Linked DNA regions of Homo sapiens: regions 1, 2 and 3 are each linked to region 4. Evidence: fine-mapped expression QTL. A gene starts in region 4. Each other region holds a variant in brackets. All regions are shown on one strand. Distances are from middle to middle. Region 1 overlaps ACSL1 (acyl-CoA synthetase long chain family member 1). Region 2 overlaps LOC105377587 (a long non-coding RNA gene). Region 3 has its middle 23 kb from the start of LINC02427. Region 4 holds the start of MIR3945HG (MIR3945 host gene).

Evidence for each region.
Region 1: its variant is fine-mapped to the expression of MIR3945HG in whole blood (INTERVAL, PIP above 0.99).
Region 2: its variant is fine-mapped to the expression of MIR3945HG in whole blood (INTERVAL, PIP above 0.99).
Region 3: its variant is fine-mapped to the expression of MIR3945HG in whole blood (INTERVAL, PIP 0.99).

The regions. Positions count from the first base shown.
Region 1 is chr4:184,789,160-184,794,312 of GRCh38, reverse strand. The region is part of intron 2 of ACSL1 (acyl-CoA synthetase long chain family member 1); the gene reads left to right. Among named protein-coding and RNA genes, the nearest start is that of ACSL1, 34 kb to the left of the region's middle. The variant T/C (reference allele first, on the strand shown) is at 2,697.
Region 2 is chr4:184,831,458-184,836,610 of GRCh38, reverse strand. All of the region lies in intron 2 of LOC105377587 (a long non-coding RNA gene), which reads right to left. Among named protein-coding and RNA genes, the nearest start is that of ACSL1, 8.1 kb to the right of the region's middle. The variant AAATAAATAAATG/G (reference allele first, on the strand shown) is at 2,211.
Region 3 is chr4:184,558,339-184,563,491 of GRCh38, reverse strand. It overlaps the pseudogene LOC100129245. Among named protein-coding and RNA genes, the nearest start is that of LINC02427, 23 kb to the right of the region's middle. The variant G/A (reference allele first, on the strand shown) is at 3,064.
Region 4 is chr4:184,853,504-184,858,656 of GRCh38, reverse strand. It overlaps MIR3945HG (MIR3945 host gene), which reads left to right and starts at 3,005. Exons shown (of 3, transcript NR_132989.1): 1 at 3,005-3,188.

The sequences.
Region 1 (5,153 bases), 64 kb after region 4:
TTTAAAAGACCTAGTGTAATATATCAAAGATGTAGTCTGCTAGATATGAGAATTGATGGCCAGAGTTCCTCTCTGAAAGGTCACTGGATGGAAAAGTAGTTTTGTGTCTTTACAAAAAGAAGCACATGATGGAGTTCTGAGCAGGCTAAGATGCGTGTAAAATGTAAATGCTGAGAAGGACGCGGTTGGCGCTCTGTATCCGTGGATTAAAAATATTCCATGGAAATAAATGGATGGTATTGTCTATTGAACATTGCCAGACATTTTTTCCTTGTCATTATTCCCTGAACAATACGGTATAACAGCTACTTATTTACATCATATTAGGTATTGTGAGTAATATAGAGACCATTTAGAGTATACAGAAAGATGTGCATAGGTTATATGCAAATACTATGCCATTTTATATCAGGGACTTGAGCATCTGGATTTGGGTATCCTGAAGGGGAACAGCTGTATAGACCACATGTTAGGTATTAGAAGGAACAAAAAGGAATCATTTTTACCCCCGGACTGTGGTTCTACATGCTCCTTTGCACCCTAGAGATGGATCCCGCATTAGAACCCAGCCACGTCTTTGGCAGTCTCTTTAGAAGTTACTTGGCTCTGCCTCTCCCCCTTCTACTCCTTGCCCTCCTCTCTCTCACTCTCCCTTCTCACTTTCGCCCTGCGTCCACCTCCCTATCCCTCTCCTGCATAAACAGTAGCAACACAAGGGGCATTTAACTGCTATGGCTGGCAGATGCCCATTTGGAGATGGAGATGAATGAGTCTATGAGTGGTAAAGCTTGGGCTTCTCTACCCCTAAGAAATCCTCAACGGCATCATTTGCTTTTGCACTTAAATAGGAGAGTGGCACAAAATAACTGGCCATCGCGTTCCTGTTAGTCAAATATTGGTGAGAGTTCTGGCCTCGGAAACCTTTGATATGCAGATGTTCACGGTTTTCCTGCCCTTCCTGCCCCCAAGGGGGACTTGAACTTGTTTCCTAATTCAGCCCTTGTGGGGAGACTGACCTCAGGAGGAACCTGAGCTTGTAGAGATGTTGCGGAATATACTCATGACCACCGATTTCACTGTAGTGGGTTTGACTCACTATCTTTTTTTTTTTTTTTTTTAACTGGGAACACTATGTAACCACATTAAAGAGGTCTATAGCAGGAGGAATAAAAGACTCCTAAAGCCTGCTGACTCACTGGCTCATGACTGATTTCCTACACATTCAGCTGGGGTTGTCTGCTTTGCTTGCCCTGTTTCTTGAGCCCAAGCGACCCACACACACTGCCTGCTGATCAGTAGGTTATGTCAGAAGGCCGTAAGGGCCAAATTTAAGCTATTTTTCATTTAAATAGGCGTCCCTAGAAATAGCTACGTGGACTTACCTAATATAGTATTTAAGTCCCCAGCTTTTGAAGTGATTCTGTCTTGTAAAACCTACAAGCATTTCAGACTCCAATTGTTACAGCTTTGCTTCCCAGCACTCAGCTTGCAACCCCTTGCTTGTGTAGATATAACTAAGGTTGCTAACACCCTTTTTTAAATATAGCATTTCTGTTCAAAAAATAGCAACACTGGGCCAGGCGCAGTGGCTCACACCTGTCATCCCAATACTTTGGGAGGCCTAGGCGGAAGGATCCCTTGAGCCCAGGAGTTTGAGACCAGCCTGGGCAACATAGTGAGACCTTGCCTCTACAAATAATAAACAGATTAGCCAAGCAAGGTGGCACGTGTCTGTGGTTTCAGCTACTCAGGAGGCTAAGTGCGAGGATTGCTTGAGCTCAGTCAGACGGTTGAGACGGCAGTGAGCTCTGATAATGCCACTGAACTCTAGCCTGGGCGACAGAGCCTGCCCCTGTTTCGGGAAAAAAAAATAATTCATTATTAGAATGTGTGGTCTTTTCATAGAGCCACAGATTTTGAAGCACAGATCCTAATGTTTTGTGCCCTTCCCCTTCTTATTCAACCCCCTTTCTTGAAATTACAGTTATGTCTGACAACTGAGTGACAGTGTGACCTTTTATCCCGTATCATCGAGCCTTCAATTAGTGTCTCCTTTTGACAGATGTCTCATTTACTGCTTCATTTTCAAGCTTTTCTCATTATTCTAATTGCTAATTAGGGTAATAATAAATATCTTGCCCCAGGTTACATGTCAAGATGTTGCTTTATTGGGGATATCATTCACTTCTTTAACTTTGATTTAGCTTGTTTGCCTCCATGTTTCTCGGATTCCAGAAGATTATACACCACCAAAAACTTAAACCTAACTAAAAAATTATTTAGCTAAAAGTTTGTTATAAAATGGTCCTCCAGAGCAGTGGTTCTCAAAATAAAATTTGGGACATTGACCAAGGTGGTTGACCTGTCTTGAAGGGATATGGTCTCTGTATGTCCAAAGCTAAACTTCATCTCTTTTCTGAAGCCTACCCCCAGTACCCAGTCTTCTATTTGATTAAAGGGGACAGTTTTTCTTCTCAGCCCTCCTTCTTTCTGCTTACACCCCATTACCTGTTAAATCCTGTTCCTGAGTGCTGCAGCACGCCCAGTGCCTTGGTCCTTCCCGGCTCCCAACTCCCACTGCCCTATCCAGGTCTGTAGGAGTTGGTTTCTCCCCAGTCTCTTCCCTCCCTCCTGTTCCACACACTGCTTACGCTTCTTGTAGATTTCTTTCTAACCCATTAGCCCATCCTCACCAC[T/C]TCCCTGCTGAAAACTTCCCTGCTGGAAACCTGCTGTCCCTAGGAAGGTGCTTCTCAAACTTTAGCATCCCCTGGAGGGCTTCTTAAAGCACAGATTGCTGGATCGCATCCCCAGAGTTTCGGATTCAGCAGGTCTGGTGTGATTTGCTTTCCTAACCAGTGCCAGGTGTTCCGCAGAGCACACTTTGAGAAGCTTGGCTCTAGAATGAGCCTGTGCACCTGAGATTTCAGGCTTGCTTCTGTCTGTTCATCCTGACTCTCCCTGCACTCTTCTGCTCAGCCAGGGTTCCCTGGAGTCCCTGTGGTCACTTAGAGACAAGACGTGGGCTCCTTCAGAACAAGCTTGTGTCTTGTTCACCTTATCCCCATCTGCCCATTCACAGCTAGGGGAACTCCTCTGCAGAGTGCAGAAAGTGGTGTTGCTTTTGAAGAGAGAGCACTGAAAAAGACCATGAATGCATTTCTGTTGTGTCAAGAGGTATAGAAGGCACCTTTGTAAGCAGAGCATCGTGAGGACCTCCCTGTGGGCGGCCAGGCCACCTGCATGTCTAGGCCATGCTGAGACAACCACACTTCACCATCATACTTGGTACTTTTCTTATCTCTTTTCACACCCACTCATTCTTCCTGTTTTCTCTCATTTTGTCCTTTCCCCCTTTCTCTTCCTACCTTAGCCTTGGTGCCTTCGGTGTGTTTGGTGGCTTCATGGGTTGAAAAGGCTTCTGATATTCACTACAAAGCCACAAAATTGCTTCTGAATTTCAGGCTATTTGTTGGAGTCAAGACTGAGGTGATGGAGGACTTGTACTGTAGTTAGAGCATGTTATCGGGTGCACAAGTAATATTCTACACAATCATATTTTACAGGAAAGTTCCTCTTTAACAAAAAATAACCCTGGAAGTGGACTCATGATGTCTCCATTTTACAGAAAAGAAAACAGACTCAGCGATTAAGTAACAATAATGCGTGACACTAAGCAAAGATATTCTCCCATTCTTATGCACACAGAGAATAACGTTTTTGCTTCATAAAGTAGTGTGCTGTAGTTAGTAAGCATGTTTGGAATCACAGCCATAGGTGTTAGAAAGTTTCTGCCGAGAGAGAAGACATTGTGATGATTAAAAGATATGGTTAGGTCATATTTACTCCAGAAAACTATTAGCAGTTTGGGATCAAGAGTGAAATACACACATGTAGCACACAGTAGATATTGACAGAATGTCTATAAATGTATAAGCATAAAAAAAAGACTGGGAGGAATTTACCAAACTACTAATAGTCATCATTTTTCCTTGATATACTTCTGTATCACTTAAATGTTTTTAAACAGTATATACATTATAACTTAAGGGTGGACAAAAAGCAAAAGAGCTTGTAGGAAGAGAAATGGATAATCCTAATAAAAATAGAAGAGTCCATGGAAACAGATCAGGCAGTCATCCCCTTCTAAAGGGTCTCCCTGTGAGTTCATCCCCTGGCACCCATCCACTTCCTCCTCAGCGCGGCCCTCCTCAGCCTGCCGCCCTACTCTGAGACCTAGCTTTTCCACACTTCTTTTTGGTGTCTCCTGTTTTGTTTCATCACACCTTAAGCCAGAAACGATCTCTTCCACTTTTGGACAGCTCTCTCCTCTTGGTACCAGAGGTTATCATATCACAGTCTAATTTCTCCAAGGGTTTCCAGACTGTTGTAAAAGTGAAGGCCCCTCTCTGAAATTAAAAAAAAAAAAAAAGGTAGGCTCTAACGTCATAGTCACTGAGCTTTTATTTATCAGTCTCTAAAGACTGCTTTTTGGCTTTCTGTGGATGTCTGGATGCCTTACAGTGTCCTTTGGCCCCAGAGGACTCAGCAGCTCACATTGGAGACCTGCTACCTGTAAAGACTACTGCTGCTACTGTGGGAGGCTAGGCCCTGCCGCCTTATCCATCATTAGGAGTTCTTGCACATAGCAAATATACTCAGGAAGCTAACAGATGAAGACGACTTAGAGAAAGGTGCACAGCGATGTCAAATCTGCACACCTATAAATGTTGCACCTAAAACTAATAAAGACCTGTGTCTGCACATGCATATGTTTTGTAGCTGATGATTTTAACTGTTAGAGATGCTATGCAAGAAAGTGAAGTTTCTAACAGATGATATTGCGCTTGGTGAGGAGATAAAATAGTGGAAATAGTCTCAAAAAGAATATAGGTAACATTTTAGAAGTATAACCAAATGGGGTTTCATTTCCACCAGAGCTGAACAGGATCAGTCCTCTGTGCTGTGGATGGCAGTGGCTTGAGAACTGTCAATGTGTGTAGTGGTGGCAGTTTGTGGCTCTTCTCTTGCTCTCTTTGGCCTTATCCGGCAGGACCAGCACTTGTAGGTCTGTAAACCTGTTTTCTCTCTTCAGGCATCTTTCTGACTTAGCCGTGGTTCCCCGAAGCCTGTGTTTACCTCCAGGCGAATGATTG
Region 2 (5,153 bases), 22 kb after region 4:
AAATACTTGAAAATGAGATACATTGAAGTAGGCCAATTAACCTAAATTGTAAACTAGACCACTGTGCTTCATTTTTTTTTCATTTAACATCCAAATTATGGAACCTGAATGACATGAGCAGCCTCAGTAGGAATGACACCAGAGAGACAGAGCTTTCAAAAAATTACACTTATCAAAGTCTTTAGGAATCTCTCCAGATTATTCTCAAACAGCCAGCTTCTTGGCAAAATGGGAGCTTAGTGCATTCTGGTAGACTGTTTGACTTGAAGAAAAGACTGTGAGAGCAGAGGTATTCAAATGTGTTCAGCAGTGAGCACAAATGCCCACAATGCCATGAGCTGTCTACATTTTCAATTGAGAACTATGCTGAAAAGAACAGCCTGACAAGCATCTTAAAAATGGATTTTTAGCCATGATAAAAAATCATTTCCCCAAAAGTTAATAATCTTTAGCTGTGTAGAGTGCAATATTATAATCAATTTTATTCAGTCAGTGAAAACATTGATATTTACCATAGTGAACTAATTTCAAAAGCTGTACATTCAATATATTCATGCCAAAGACATCTCACTCAATTTTGACTACACAAGAATATCCCTAATGGAGGCTCTTGGCATTGAATTTAATAGACTCGAGGAAGACAATGTATTTTCACAGAGATATACGGGTGTCAAACATAGGCCAGACTTTGATCCCATAGCCGAAACGCTGGAGGTATCAATAATAAGATGTCTTTGTAGTGGGTTAATCAGGTAAAACATTTTGTGCTAAACGTTTTAGGCAAATTGCATTCTGTGGATAGATGGGCACTAGGTCATCATACTACCAGCTCCCTGAGGTCTCATATTATGTTCACCTCTGTATACCTTTCACAGCCAGGTATAAACACACACTTGCATACTCCAGCACCTACCACTGTGGCTAGCACATAATAAATGCTCAGTAAATGGTTTCACGTGATTGCATGAAGACCTGAACTTGGAATGAAACTTCCACCTGTTAGCTCCAGGCTCTTGCAAATGGTAACCAGGTACCTAGGAGGCTTAGACGGGGAAGGCAAAACTGAGGACCTATCACGTAGCAGGCCCCTTACAACCTGCAGTGCTGGCTATACCTCATTTTCAGATGTAGAAATTGAGGCTCAGAGAGATCAGCCACAGAATTAGTGAGAGGTAGAATCAGACCTTGAACTTAGATCTCTGCAAGTACAAATCCAGTGCCCTTTCTATTCCACCAGGGCTCTTAACTGGGGACCCCAGGGAACCCATAGAAAGCATGTGGGAAACGTTTATGAGGAGGGTCTGAATCTTCCATTGCATTCCCAAGGTGGTGCATGGCCTCCAAAAGGCTGAGAAGTGAGCTTGTGGCTGTATGCAGGCTCTGGGCCGGCGTCAGCCTGCTGCAGGAGAGAAGTAGAGGGTGCAAATGGAAGTGGAGGATGGTGGTATGTTGTTCCACTCACAGTTTCAACATCCCTCCGAGCCAATATACCAACTCTATGGGGTCCTGGGGTCCTGCCCCCATAGGGTATCATAGGGTGACAAAAGACCTGATCCAAGTCCCATCCACTGTCCATGGTATTTATAGACACACTCTACTCACATAAAATACTGACGTTTGTGAGCGCGCGTGGTGTGTGTGTTGGGGTGGGGGTGGGGGATCAGAGAGACCACGGAGACATGGATAGGGCCTGCAATGATTCTCTGTGTAGTGGTGATGTCACTGGGTTGTGATCTAAAGAGGAGAGAAAAGTCAGCAGAGTTCATACCCTAGGGATGCAGTAAGAACGAGCTATTGATGGATTAAATACTGAATCTAATTTTACTCCGGATCTCTGGGCCACAGGCCTTCTTGGGTGTAAGACAGAGATTGAAAACTCTGTTTTCTAAATTTAACAGGTGTTGGCCAGGCGCAGTGGCTCATGCCTATAATCCCAGCACTTTGGGAGGCCAAGGTGAGCAGACCACCTGAGGTCAGGAGTTTGAGACCAGCCCAGTCAACGTGGTGAAACACTGTCTCCATTAAAAATACAAAAATTAGCTGGTCCTGGTGGCAGGTGCCTGTAATCCTAACTACTCGGGAGGCTGAGGCACGAGAATCACTTGAACCGGGAGGTGGAGGTTGCAGTGAGCTGAGATTGCACCACTTCACTCCAGCCTGGGTGACAGAGTGAGACTCGGTCTCAAAAATAAATAAATAAATAAATAAAT[AAATAAATAAATG/G]TAACAGGTATTTATAGAGTATTTGCTGCTACCGCTAGTCATGGTACTGGGGAGCTCTGTGTAATATAAAGAAATAAGGAAAATTCTTTATGTGTGCATGTTACGCAAACAAGTCATCACAGCTCAGTGTCACAAGTCCTACACTAGAAAGATGGTAGGGTGCTGTGGGAGCATCCCCAGAGGAAAGGAAGATGATACCCAGGGGAATGAGAAGAAGTTCTATTGGAAGTAACATGTCACTTCAATTAAATAAACACATATCAAGTGCCAGGCACTGTATTGGGGATGGAAGGTGTCTAGACACAGAATATCTGCTACCAAAAAGCCCAAAGCCAGGCCCACAGAAGCACAAGAATGACAACCTGCTGCAACAAAGGCAATGTGTGTAAAGTACAGGGTGGCACAGCTCTGGGAGCAACAAATTGTGTGTGTGTCCTAGGGAAAGTGATGTCTGAGTTAGGATTGGGAGGATAAACATGAATTTACCAGCTTTCTGGTAGAAAGAAGCACGGACACAAATGTGATAGTAATAGTACGTACAGAACATTGACCAGGGGCCACGCACTGTACTAAGTGATATTACTGACATTATCTCACAGAGCCCTACTACTCAACTCTTTGAGGCAAGCACTACTACTCTTAGTACTTGTGCACTCTTAGTACAAATTTCTTCAGACTTTTTTATGTACACAGTCAGGATGTGGGTAGATTGCAAAATAACCAGCAAAATTCTCCTCCTCGTACCCATGTGCTTCAGTAGCTCTTTCCCATACTGAGTCTTGACTTGGTCATGTGGCTTGCTTTAGCCAACGGGACCCATCCCTGCTCTCATTCCCCTCTCCAGTAAGACGGAACTCTCTGCAGGTTAAGAGTCGAGGGTCTGGAACCAGACTGCCTGGATTCAAGCACGCAAACATGATGCAAGGGGTTTGAAAAGCATTTATGCCCTGAGGCTTGTCCCCTTTGCTGTGCTTGTAGCCGTGACACTACTATTTGAACACGCTTGAGCTAGTTTGCTAGGGTGGCCATGTGAAGAACTGAGGAGCCTCAGCAAATTGTCAGCCAACCATCAGACATGTAAATGAGGCTATCCCAGAGCATCTGGCCCCAGCTGATCCACCAGCTATTGGTGGCTGCAGGACTGAGCCTAAGAGAGACCAGCAGGGGAACCACCCAGCTGAACCTAGCCCAAGTGCCGACCCACAGAATGATGAGCTAATGAATGATTGTGGTGTTAAGCCATTAAGTTTTGGTGTGATTTGTCATACAGCAAAAGCGAATTGATAGAGGGTGCATCTTCCAAAGGACAATGTTTTGCAATTAAAATCAGCAGAAATTCTTTTCTTTATCAGGGCTACATAAATTAATAGTGCATCTTACAATTGATGATTTAGATTTGATGCAATACAGTATTATATTCACTCAGCAGATAAGAAAGACAGGGATTTGACAGTTACTTGCCTTGGGTCTGAACTAGTGAGTAGTGGAATTGGTTCCAACCTGTGTGACTCCAGACTTTTTACTCTTGACTACAGATAGCTGGAGAGGAAAATGATATGAACTTGTTGGCGGGGAAAGCAGGGTCAGGTTATGAAGGGTGCCTTAGAAACCCTTGCAGAGGTTGAATTTTACTAGTTGGGAATAAGTGGCCAGTTGAGTGGGAAAAATGAAGTAATTATCATTTCTTTTTGACATTGACTACATAAGATCTTCATATCACTTCCAAGAACAAAAAAATAGAGTGCTGTGGGGACGCAGGGTGGGGTCTAGACGCCCTGGTTTGTCAGCTCTGTGTTGGGGCAGAACTGCAATGCCAGGAGAAGGCCTGAGCAGTGAGTCTGGGAGAGCTGGAGTCCTCCAACCCAGAAAAGAGAGGGGAAACCCTGGGCAGCTGCGGCCTAAGCAGCTGTGGATTGTTCTCCCACATGGAGTGGATGAAGCCAGTGGATCAAGTGCATGTTAAAACTAAAAGGGGTGTGGAGAAAGGGACTATGACTTCATTAGGGCCACTGAAGACCACAGGATAATTATCAGTAGTGTTAGAACAGTGTCGGCCTGGTGGAAATGCTTCTTCTTCACTACCGCTGAAGCCCAGGAGAGTTGAACTAGCAAGTCCAAGCAGTGGCATCATAACGGTGCAAAAAGCATTGCCAACGGGAGTAGATTCATTGCGAGGCTCACATAGCTTGATTTTTAGGGCTTCTCATTTATAGAAGCCCCTTGTGAGACCTCGGGAGGGGCTCTGGCAACCTAGTCACATGGTTAAATGTTTCCACAAAATTTGCAAAAGTAAGACCACGTAGCTGCAATCAGTTGATACAGCACATAGCACAGTTGGTGCACTCTATGCAAAGTCTCTTCTGTCACCACCTCATCCCATTATGGTGCTGAAGTGACCAAGGTCATCTTTGGAACCCAGCTAACAAGAGCTGGAGCTGAACATACATTTCTTTGGGTCTGGGGAGATGTAGTTACGGAATTCACAGGGACTTGCATGTATAGCTCTAGCTTTCTCCGCACAGGAATGCCTTCAGGTATATTTCTCCACCCTCTCTGTCAACTTATCTAGCATCCTGGCAGGAGGTTCAAGGCCAGAGATCATATTTCCCCTCTCCTAAGGCATCTTAGGAGATGGGCAGGGGAAGAGAAACACGGAGTGAAATGGACATAGCCGGTAGGTTTACCACTGAAAATTTTTCCAATCAGCATTCATTTAAAATGAAAAGCAATGAATTTGGTACCCATCCACATAGTTTTGATTTTGAATCAAAACTAACAATGTAAGAAAAGCCCATCAATCATGGTAGAGAAAAGTCCGAATTTTCTTCCTGTAGAAAATTATATTATAAAAATGTCACATGTGGCCTTCCTCCTAAAAACCTATAACCCCAGTCTAATCGTAAGAAAAACATCAGACAACTCCCAATAGAA
Region 3 (5,153 bases), 300 kb after region 4:
TCAAAATATCTATGAGCCAAAGGATATGAATGACTAAAAGCAGGAGGATTATTACCTCAAGGGGTGGAGGGTTGAACCTCAGGATATAACCTGTGAGATCCTTCCTGCTGGCTCAGTGCTGGCTGAACGGGGGGCCGGAGAGTGCCAGGAACAGCACATATCTGGGACAGGAGGGAATTCAGGGAGGAAGGCAAAGAGAAACAGGCCCTTTTTTGTTTTTATTGATACATGACAATTGTACATATTTGTAGGGTACACGTGATATTTTGATACATGCATAAAATGTGTAGCGATCAAATCAGGATAATTTGCATATCAATTACCTCAAATATTTATCATTTATTTGTGTTGGGAACATTCCAAATCTTCTAGCCATTTTGAAATATATAATAAGTTATTGTTAACGATCGTCACCCTACTGTGCTGTTGAACACTAGAACTTCTTCTGTTATCTAACCGTATTTTTGTGCCCATTAACCAACTTCTGGGAAGGGTAAGGGGGTAGGGGGATGAAAAGGGCCCTTTTTAAGGCAAAGATAATCTTACCAGAAGGGAAGAAATTTTAGAAGGAAAAAAAAAAGTTGACCGTGGGCTTAGAGCGGGGACTACAGAAATTGAATGGCTAAAAGAAAAAAACAACTTAGCAATGTGAAACTACATCTCATTGTCATTCCTTTCACAGGTCCAATATCTGATATTCTTTTGAGAAGCTGGATATGAAGTAGGACTCTTTCTTTGAGTCATATATTTTTATGATTATGATTATTATTATTGAATGGTAGTTGACAATTATTGAGTACAATTATTGAGCTTTGACTCAATAGCTCTCTTCAAAGGCCTTTACATACGTTTTCTCCACTTCTCATTGTTAGATATTCTTATTATTCCCATTTTGTAGATGAGGGATGCACAGGCAGCAAGCCTATGTGGAGGCAGAGAGCAGCTAAGTAACCTGACCACGGCCCAACAGCAAACAAATGATGGGGCCACATGCAAATCCAGGCAGAACCCTTCTATTATATGAAGCTCAATGTTTTCTTGTTTTCATCTTGTTCTGCATACACCTATTTGCAAATGGGTTTTGAAGCTACTTTAAAACTTTTTGTAGCCAGGCGCCGTGGCTGACGCCTGTGATCCCAGCATTTTAGGAGGCCGAGGTGGGCGGACCGCCTGAGCTCAGGAGTTTGACACCATCCTGGCCAACATGGTGAAACCCTGTCTCTACTAAAAACACAGAAAATTAGCCAGGCGTGGTGGCATGCACCTGTAATCGCAGCTACTCAGGAGGCTGAGGCAGGAGAATCGCTTGAACCCGGGAGAGGAAGGTTGCGGTAAGCCAAGATTGCGTCACTGCACTCCAGCCTGGGTGACAGAGCGAGACTTTGTCTCTAAATAAATAAATAAATAATCAACTTTTTGTTTACTTTTAAGATTTCAGAGCTTAGCTGTTGAATAAGGGGTGAGAGAATTCAGCAAGCATTTGGTGAAGACCCACAGCACTGGGGGACACCTAAGGACAACACAAGCAACAGGCAGGAGTTTATGTATATCTAAGTCACTGGACAGATTATAACGTAAGGCAGAAAGTGGAGAGTATTTTAAGAGAAGAGGTACAAAGTGCTGTGGGAACTCTAACGTGGGGAAGATTATATCCTGGGGTTGTGGAAGGATCAGAGGAGTTTCAGGGAAAAAGTTGCATTTCACTAAGGGTCTTGAAAGATGGATATGGTTTTAAATGTTGAAGGCTGGATTTTGAGCTCCTGACCACGTCTGTAGATTGTATTCATACGTATTTTTATGTCTACTGATTTATTCTTAGTGCATTTTTTTTCTTTTTGAGATGGAGTCTCGTTCTGTCACCTAGGCTGGAGTGCAGTGGTGCGATCTCGGTTCACTGCAACCTCCGCCTCCTGGGTTCAAGCAATTCTCCTGCCTCAGCCCCCAAGTAGCTGGGATTACAGGCACCTGCCACCATGCCTGGCTAATTTTTTGTATTTTTAATACAGATGGGGTTTCACCATGTTAGCCAGGATGGTCTCGATCTCCTGACCTCATGATCCACCCGCCTCAGCCTCCCAAAGTGCTTGGATTACAGGCCTGAGCTACTGTGTCCAGCCCATGCATTTTTTTAAGTTAAAGTATTTATTGAGCATCTACTGTATATCATGTGCTGAGATAGGCACCAGCAGTGCAGGGAATATATGGCACAGTCTCTGCCCTCAATAACTTTCACTCTCATACATATGTATTAGGAAATCAATATGTATGTGGATGTAAGATAGTATGATAGACATTGCAACAAAGAATTATATGCTGTAAACCTATTTCTTAGGATTTTAGACTTAAAGGGCTTTCATCCTATTTCCAATAAAACCTACTGCATAACCTTAAAGGGATTCTCAGTTTGAAATCATCATATAAACTACAGTAGCATCTGCTGGTGAAATACCACTTTGTATCTATTAGAATAGTCCACATTATTAGAGCTGTAAAAGGTATTGTCCAGAAATCTCTGAAAACAAGAGAAAGTGTTATGGTAGGTTAATAAGATGACATCTAAACTGTTCTCTTAAAGCTATTGAAGTTCCAAGAATATCTCACAGCACAAAGCTCAAGTGTATGCCAACAACTCCTCATGCCACAAGATGTGACACTCTCCCAACCTCTTTTTGCAAAAGCTTCCAATTCTGTGTCTTATAAGACTACTTTTTATACCCACATATTCACAATTTTGTAGTGCAAGTAAAGACAAGATGGGAAGGGGGCTTCCACTTGTTGATGCCAGCTGCTCTGTGGACCAGGCCGTGCCCATGCATCCGTATTGGTTCTCTTTTATCCCCACGTCAGCCATAACACATAAGGGTTTTTTTTTTTTTTTTTTTTTTTTTGAGATGGAGTCGTGCTCTGTCGCCCAGGCTGTTGTGCAGCGGTGCGATCTCGGCTCACTGCAAGCTCCGCCTCCCGGGTTCACGCCATTCTCCTGCCTCAGCCTCCTGAGTAGCTGGGACTGCAGGCGCCCACCACCACGCCCAGCTAATTTTTTTTTGTGGTTTTAGTAGAGAC[G/A]GGGTTTCACCATGGTCTCGATCTCCTGACCTCGTGATCCCCCCGCCTCGGCCTCCCTAAGTGCTGGGATTACAGGCGTGAGCCACCGCGCCCGGCCTTACACGTAAGTGTTAACATCTGTTGTACAGACGAGGAAACTGAAACTCTAAGAGAATATGCCATCTACCCAGAGTCATGCAGCTTGTATATGTAAGAGTTGGAATGAAAATTCAATCTGTATGAGTCCCAAGTCCCCTTACACCATGTGATTTCCATTTCATTTTGCAATCATCCTGGCTGGGATATGTCTGCCCTAAAAGATAGTAAGTAGGAATACTTGTCTCTATACCTTAACCTAACATCCATGGGTTTGCTTTTTGTATTTGGAGGTGTCATAACATTATAAAATTTGATTTTATTTGAATAGTGAGTATTATGCTACTCAGTCTAGAGATTTATGATATTCCAGTCTAAACTGGATGATAGCAATGAAGCTTCTTCGAGGTGACCAGTATGATTAATAAGGTAGAAATAAGTTGAATTGCTATGGAGTTGCTACTTCTGAATTTAAAGCTAGTTGAGATCAAGTATATGTTCAAAAAGATCTCTAGGGGTGTGTGTTGAAGACCAGGGCCAGAGGTGCACATGGCGCTGGGAAGACAGAGAATGTCTCTTCCGGGCGGAGGTCGTGGAGGCTTTGATCGAGGTGGTGGAGGTGGCGGTTTCAACCGCGGCAGCAGCAGCAACCGCTTCTGAGGTGCAGGCGGTGGAAATATCAGAGGTGGCGACAGGGGAGGATTTGGATGAGGGGGTGGCCACGGAGGCTTTGACAAAGGCCAAGGCCAAGGACCTCCAGAACGTGCAGTCTTGTTAGGAGAGTTCCTGCATCCCTGTGAAGATGACATAGTTTGTAAACGTACGGCAGATGAAAATAAGGTGTCTTATTTCAATGCTCCTGTTTACTTAGAAAACAAAGAACAAATTGGAAAAGCGGATGAAATATTTGGACAACTTAGAGATTTTTATTTTTCCGTTAAAATGTCAGAAAACGAGAAGGCTTCATCCTTTAAAAAACTCTGGAAGTTTTATATAGACCCATATGAGCTGCTGCCACTGCAGAGGTTTTTACCTCGGCCTCCAGGTGAGAAAGGACCTCCAAGATGTGGTGGCAGGGGAGGCCGAGGAGGAAGAAGGGGAGGTGGCAGAGGCAGTGGCAGAAGCGGTGGTTTTAGAGGTGGAAGAGGAGGTGGTGGTTTCAGAGGGAGAGGACGTTAAGTGAAACAGTTGACAGATATCACCAGTTGCCTTCTGCATTAACCTGCGTGATCTGTTTCTACTATGGATTGGAAACTTGTTTCTCGAGCAAGTCTTGAAGATCTTGGTCATTTTATGACAATGGATCTAAAATGTCAGCATCATGCAAAGTGCCACGGAATAGTGAATTTTGCTCTAAAAGAGCATGAACAAGTCTTTCTAATGTTTTGTACGGTGCCTGGCACTCTGTGGGTGCTTAATAAATGGACAGGAGTTTTCATTAGAAGCATATTTGAATTTTTATTTATTTTATTTTTATTTTTTATTTATTTTGTTATTTTTTGAGACAGGGTCTCGCTCTGTCGCCCAGGCTGGAGTGCAGTGGCGCGATCTCAGCTCACTGCAACTTCCGCCTCCTGGGTTCAAGCAATTCTCCTGCCTCAGCCTCCTGAGTAGCTGGGATTACAGGCACCCGCCACCACGCCCAGCTAATTTTTAGATTTTTAGTAGAGACGGGGTTTCACCATGTTGGTCAGGCTGGTCTCAAACCCCTGACCTCGTGATCCGCCCGCCTCGGCCTCCCAAATTGCTGGGATTACAGGCGTGAGCCACTGCACCGGGCCTGAATTTTTAAAATAAAGTGTTTTATTCCCTTAAAAAAAAGATCTCTATAATCTTCACTTGAATAATACAAACATTTTTTATTTTTTACATATTTATTTATGGAACATAGTTGTAATTTTAAAACAGAATTTTTGTAAATTGTATTAAAATATATTAAAAACATACTACATTATGATCCAATGGAGTTTTTCACGGTAACTCAGTGTTAGTTTAAGATGTGAAATTCAATCAAT
Region 4 (5,153 bases):
CCGAGGTGACGATGTGGAGTTGTGATCCCGGGTCTTCAGAGGACCAGCTGGGACCTTTGGGACCCCGAGGTGACGATGTGGAGTTGTGATCCCGGGTCTTCAGAGGACCAGCTGGGACCTTTGGGACCCCGAGGTGACGATGTGGAGTTGTGATCCCGGGTCTTCAGAGGATCAGCTGGGACCTTTGGGACCCCGAGGTGACGATGTGGAGTTGTGATCCCGGGTCTTCAGAGGACCAGCTGGGACCTTTGGGACCCCGAGGTGACGATGTGGAGTTGTGATCCCGGGTCTTCAGAGGACCAGCTGGGACCTTTGGGACCCCGAGGTGACGATGTGGAGTTGTGATCCCGGGTCTTCAGAGGACCAGCTGGGACCTTTGGGACCCCGAGGTGACGATGTGGAGTTGTGATCCCGGGTCTTCAGAGGACCAGCTGGGACCTTTGGGAGATGCAGAGCTGCTGCGGCGCTCTTCACATGCACTTGATCTGCTGTGTCCACTAAATCTACCCCACTTCTAACACCCCAGTCCTGGACTCCGTGGGTGCAAAACGTGAGTCTCTGCACCCCTCTTCACATCCCTGGGGGGCTTGAGAATAAGCCAGCAGCCCTGAGCTGGGCTCCTTGGCCTGGCCATGACTGCCAATGAGGGGCCTTGAGTCTGTGTCCTCAGCCCCCAGCCTGTCCCCATTTTGGGGACTTGAACAGACCCACAGTGTCAGTTCCTCCCATAAAAAGATTTCAGGGGACAGCAGCACTTCCTCTTGGCCCCCAGGCACTTGAAGGCCGCCTGCACCCCCCATTCCTAGGCCTTGCCAGCCTGAGGGCAAGCTCCTTACATGACCTGCAGCTTCAGAAACTAGGCCCTCCTCCTTACTTCCCATCACCCATTTTGTCAAAGAACCTAGAATATTTTGTTATCCGAGAAGCCTGGCTTTCGACAAACCGTAGGATTGCTAGTATCTCTTTATGGAGTGGACTTGAACTGTTTATTGCAACTGTGACATGTGGCAAATCATTTTACTGTTCTGAGGCTTTACTTCCTTCTAGTTAGAATGAGCATTAGGCCGGGCATGGTGGCTCACGCTTGTAATCCCAGCACTTTGGGAGGCCAAGGCAGGTGAATCACGAGGTCAGGAGTTCAAGACCAGACTGGCCAAGATGGTGAAACCCCGTCTCTACTAAAAATTCAAAAATTAGCTGGATGTGGTGGCGGGCACCTGTAATCCCAGCTACTCGGGAGGCTGAGGCAGAGAATTGCTTGAACCCGGGAGGCAGAGGTTGCAGTGAGACAAGATCGTGCCACTGCACTCCAGCCTGGGTGACAGAGCAAGACTCCATCTCAAAAAAAAAAGAAAAAAAAAAGAGCATTAAATATATGACATCTTTAAAACTGTGTGGATTTAGAACTGAGGTATCTTCTTTGTTACCTGAGGAGGGAAACATGCTTATGGGGCTAATGTCATTTTAATTTTGGGGTAGGTCTGTCTGTCTTCTGTGGGGTGGGGGAGAGTGAAAATTTTCTCTGCTGTAGGTGAAGACCTCTAGGCTTTATTTTCAACTCATATGCCTCATGCTATTGTTCGAGAATCATCTTTTCTATTCATATAAGCTATATCATACTGATCTTTTTTTTAACCTTATTTATTATTTTTTATTTTTGAGATGGAGTCTCCCCCTGTCACCCAGGCTGGAGTATAGTGGTGCAATCTCAGTTCACTGCAACCTCTGCCTCCAGGGTTCAAGTGATTCCCCTGCCTCAGCCTCCAGAGTAGCTGGGATTACAGGCGCGCACCACCACACCTGGATAATTTTTGTATTTTTAGTAGAGACGGGGTTTCACCATGTTGTCCAGGCTGGTCTCGAACTCGTGACCTCGGGTGATCCGCCCGACTCAGCCTCCCAAAGTGCTGGGATTACAGACATGAGCCACTGCACTCAGCCCCCCTTTTTTTTTTTAACTTTAAAATCCACTTGTGACACTTTTGTAAAATACCATCAACCTTGTGTATTAAGCTACTGTTGTGACAGCCATGATAATTTCCCTCTGAAAATGGTTTGGAGACATGAAATAATAAAAATAACCTTTAAAATGCATTATCACTCTGATTCTATTAGGAAAAACGGAAGTCACTGGATTTAAACTATGTCAATGCCCTGTACTTTCTGTCTGTCAGTAGGTGCTGTAACTGTTGGCTAAATGATTATTTTTCATGCTTCCTTTCTCATTTCTGCTTTTTTAGATATTTAAAATGTCCTTGTTTCTTGGTGAGCAGAATTATTTCCTACCTCATGACCATGAGTCATGACCTTATACTCTTCTTTCAGTACAGGAGAAAGCTTCATTAATTTACTAATGCATTCATTCCACAAGTAAACTTCTGCAATCCTCGTTTATTCATATACTTTGACAAAAACAAAGAGACCCACAAGCTTTTTGAGTCTTCACAACCCAAAACATGTATTTGAAACTGAAAATTCAATCATTCCATGTTTATAGGCATATTGCTTGATAGAAACATATAAATCATTACCTGAATTTTTTTTTTTTTTTTTTTTTTTTGAGACGGAGTCTCACTCTGTCACCCAGGCTGGAGTGCAGTGGTGCAGTCTCAGCTCACTACAACCTCTGCCTCCCGGGTTCAAGCTATTCTCCTGCCTCAGTCTCCTGAGTAGCTGGGATTACAGGCGCCCACCACCACACCCGGCTAATTTTTTTTTTTTAATTTTTAATCGAGACGGAGTTTTACCATGTTGGCCACGCTGGTCTCGAACTCCTGACCTCTGGTGATCCACCCGCCTTGGCCTCCCAAAGTGCTGGGATTACAGGCATGAGCCACCGCGCCCAGCCTGGATTTTTTTTAATCCAACCCAGTTCCATATTTTCCTCTAGAGAGACTGACTCACCAAGCCTATCTCCTTTTCCTGGAAACACAATCAAATTAACTTTCCAGTCACCGCTGTGTCTAGGTGTGGCCATATGAGTAGTTCTCACCAGTGGAATGTAGTGAAAACGAGATGCTGTCTCTTAGGGACTAAGGAAGCTATCTTTCCTCTTCCGACATTTGCTGACTGGTCGATGCTAGATGATCTTGAGACCCTGTGCTGAGGACTGGAGAACTACAGGAAAGGAGCAGTATCTCTGAATTATCGTGTGGAAGGTCACTTGTCTAGCCCCTGATGACTGTGAGGTAAGTCGTTAGGGATCTGGGGTTGTCTGATACAGCAGTTAGCAGGTCCTGACTGACATATCCCTCTTATTCTTTAAGTTGAACAAATTAGAGACTGGAGTGTTTTGGGTAGCCTTGCTATATGGCATGGTCGAAGACGGTGCTTCGCAGGTGATTTACAACCCTCCTACCATTTACTCTGTCTTCATTTCAAGCAGTATAACCTATAATTTCCTAATCTTCAGCAGAATAGGAAAAGGGGCTCAAAGCCACAAACACACACGCTTCCTTTCAATGTACCTTTGTTGCTCAGCCACAGTGGCGAGTTCACGCGCCTGGCAAGACCTCTCCCTATTTGGGCATTTTGTGAATACAGAAGAATGGGCGCCCTGGTGTGACCCAACATCAGAATCCAAAACATGGCATCTTTACCTAGCCCTTTTCGCTTCTTTTAGATCATTCAATAAACATAATCTGTTTTCTTTCAAAATAACATGGTTATCTAATTCCCTTCATTAGCAGCTAGCAAAAGAGGCCCTGGGCTTCCCGTGAGCTAATTCACTGGGTCCCTGAGGTCGTTGCGGGCTTTCCCTCTCACTCTTGCAACAGACACAATCTCACTTCTTTAATGTAAAGTATGGTTTTTCTGTCGAAATGTGCTTCCTGTTTTCTTTATCGTAACTTACAGGCATGATTGCCTGGGTCTTCTCTCATTATTCCCAGTCCACTGCCTCTTCATATTTAGTGGTACTTCTGTCTTACTGGTCCCTGGAAATTTATCTCAGATCATTTCCTTTTGGGTCTATCTCTTCTTTAAGAGAAATAATTTTAAAGTCAAAGCTCCATAATACAGAGATCTGTTCTCTTTCCCACCATCTGTTTTCTGAACCTCCCCTCCTGGTTCAAGCCTCTGTAGGATAATTTGAACACAAACCATTGACTGCCAACTGAAATCGAACAAGATAATGTCCAATTTGCCCTTTTTTCTCTCTGATTTGTCCCAATGTTTACATTTCTCCATCAATCAATGAACAAATCACTTTGGTACAGTGTGCCAGTAGCTTTGAGAGGAGCACAGAAGCAATACAAGCAAGCTCACCAGTAACTTATGAGGCTCGCTTACCCAAAGCCATTCAAGAATAAGACAGTAGATAACACCAGCCACCTGGTGTATATAGAAAGTGCATTCAGAGGGCCGGGCACGGTGGCTCACGCCTGTAATCCCAGCACTTTGGGAGGCCGAGGCGGGCAGATCACGAGGTCAGGAGATCGAGACCATCCTGGCTAACACGGTGAAACCCCGTCTCTACTAAAAATGCAAAAAATTAGCTGGGCGTGGTGGTGGGCGCCTGTAGTCCCAGCTACTCGGGAGGCTGAGGCAGGAGAATGGCATGAACCCGGGAGGCGGAGCTTGCAGTGAGCCGAGATCGCGCCACTGCACTCCAGGCTGGGCGACAGAGCGAGACTCTGTCTCAAAAAAAAAAAAAAGAAAAAAGAAAGTGCATTCAGAATTGGGGAGGGGAGAGATCAATGTGTGTTAGAGCCAAGGAAACATTTAGTAAAGATGGAATTTAGCCCTTAAGGACTGTCAGGCCAGAGCAATAGGAAGTACAAACATTTCATATGTAGAGAATAACACGAACAAGGCACAAGAGCAGAAATATGAGTAACAGCCTCAGTGGGTCCTATTCGTTATGCACCTATCATGTCCCTTGCACTATGCCGGGCCCTTTGCACTCATTATATACGATGCTCACAGCAATCCTGAGATTGTGAGGCGGGTATTTTACAAATACAAGAAGTCAGTTTTAGAGAAGTACTAAATGGCAGACTCAGGATTCATGTCTGCACTTCATTCACTGCGTAGGAAGGTGAGGGTGGTTAAGGAGGTGCCACTCTGGGAGCAGAAGGCAGTCACTGGAGCAGATCAGTGGAGCTACGTTACGGAGATCCGGGATGGTCCGTGAGGATGCTGGGCCTCACCTG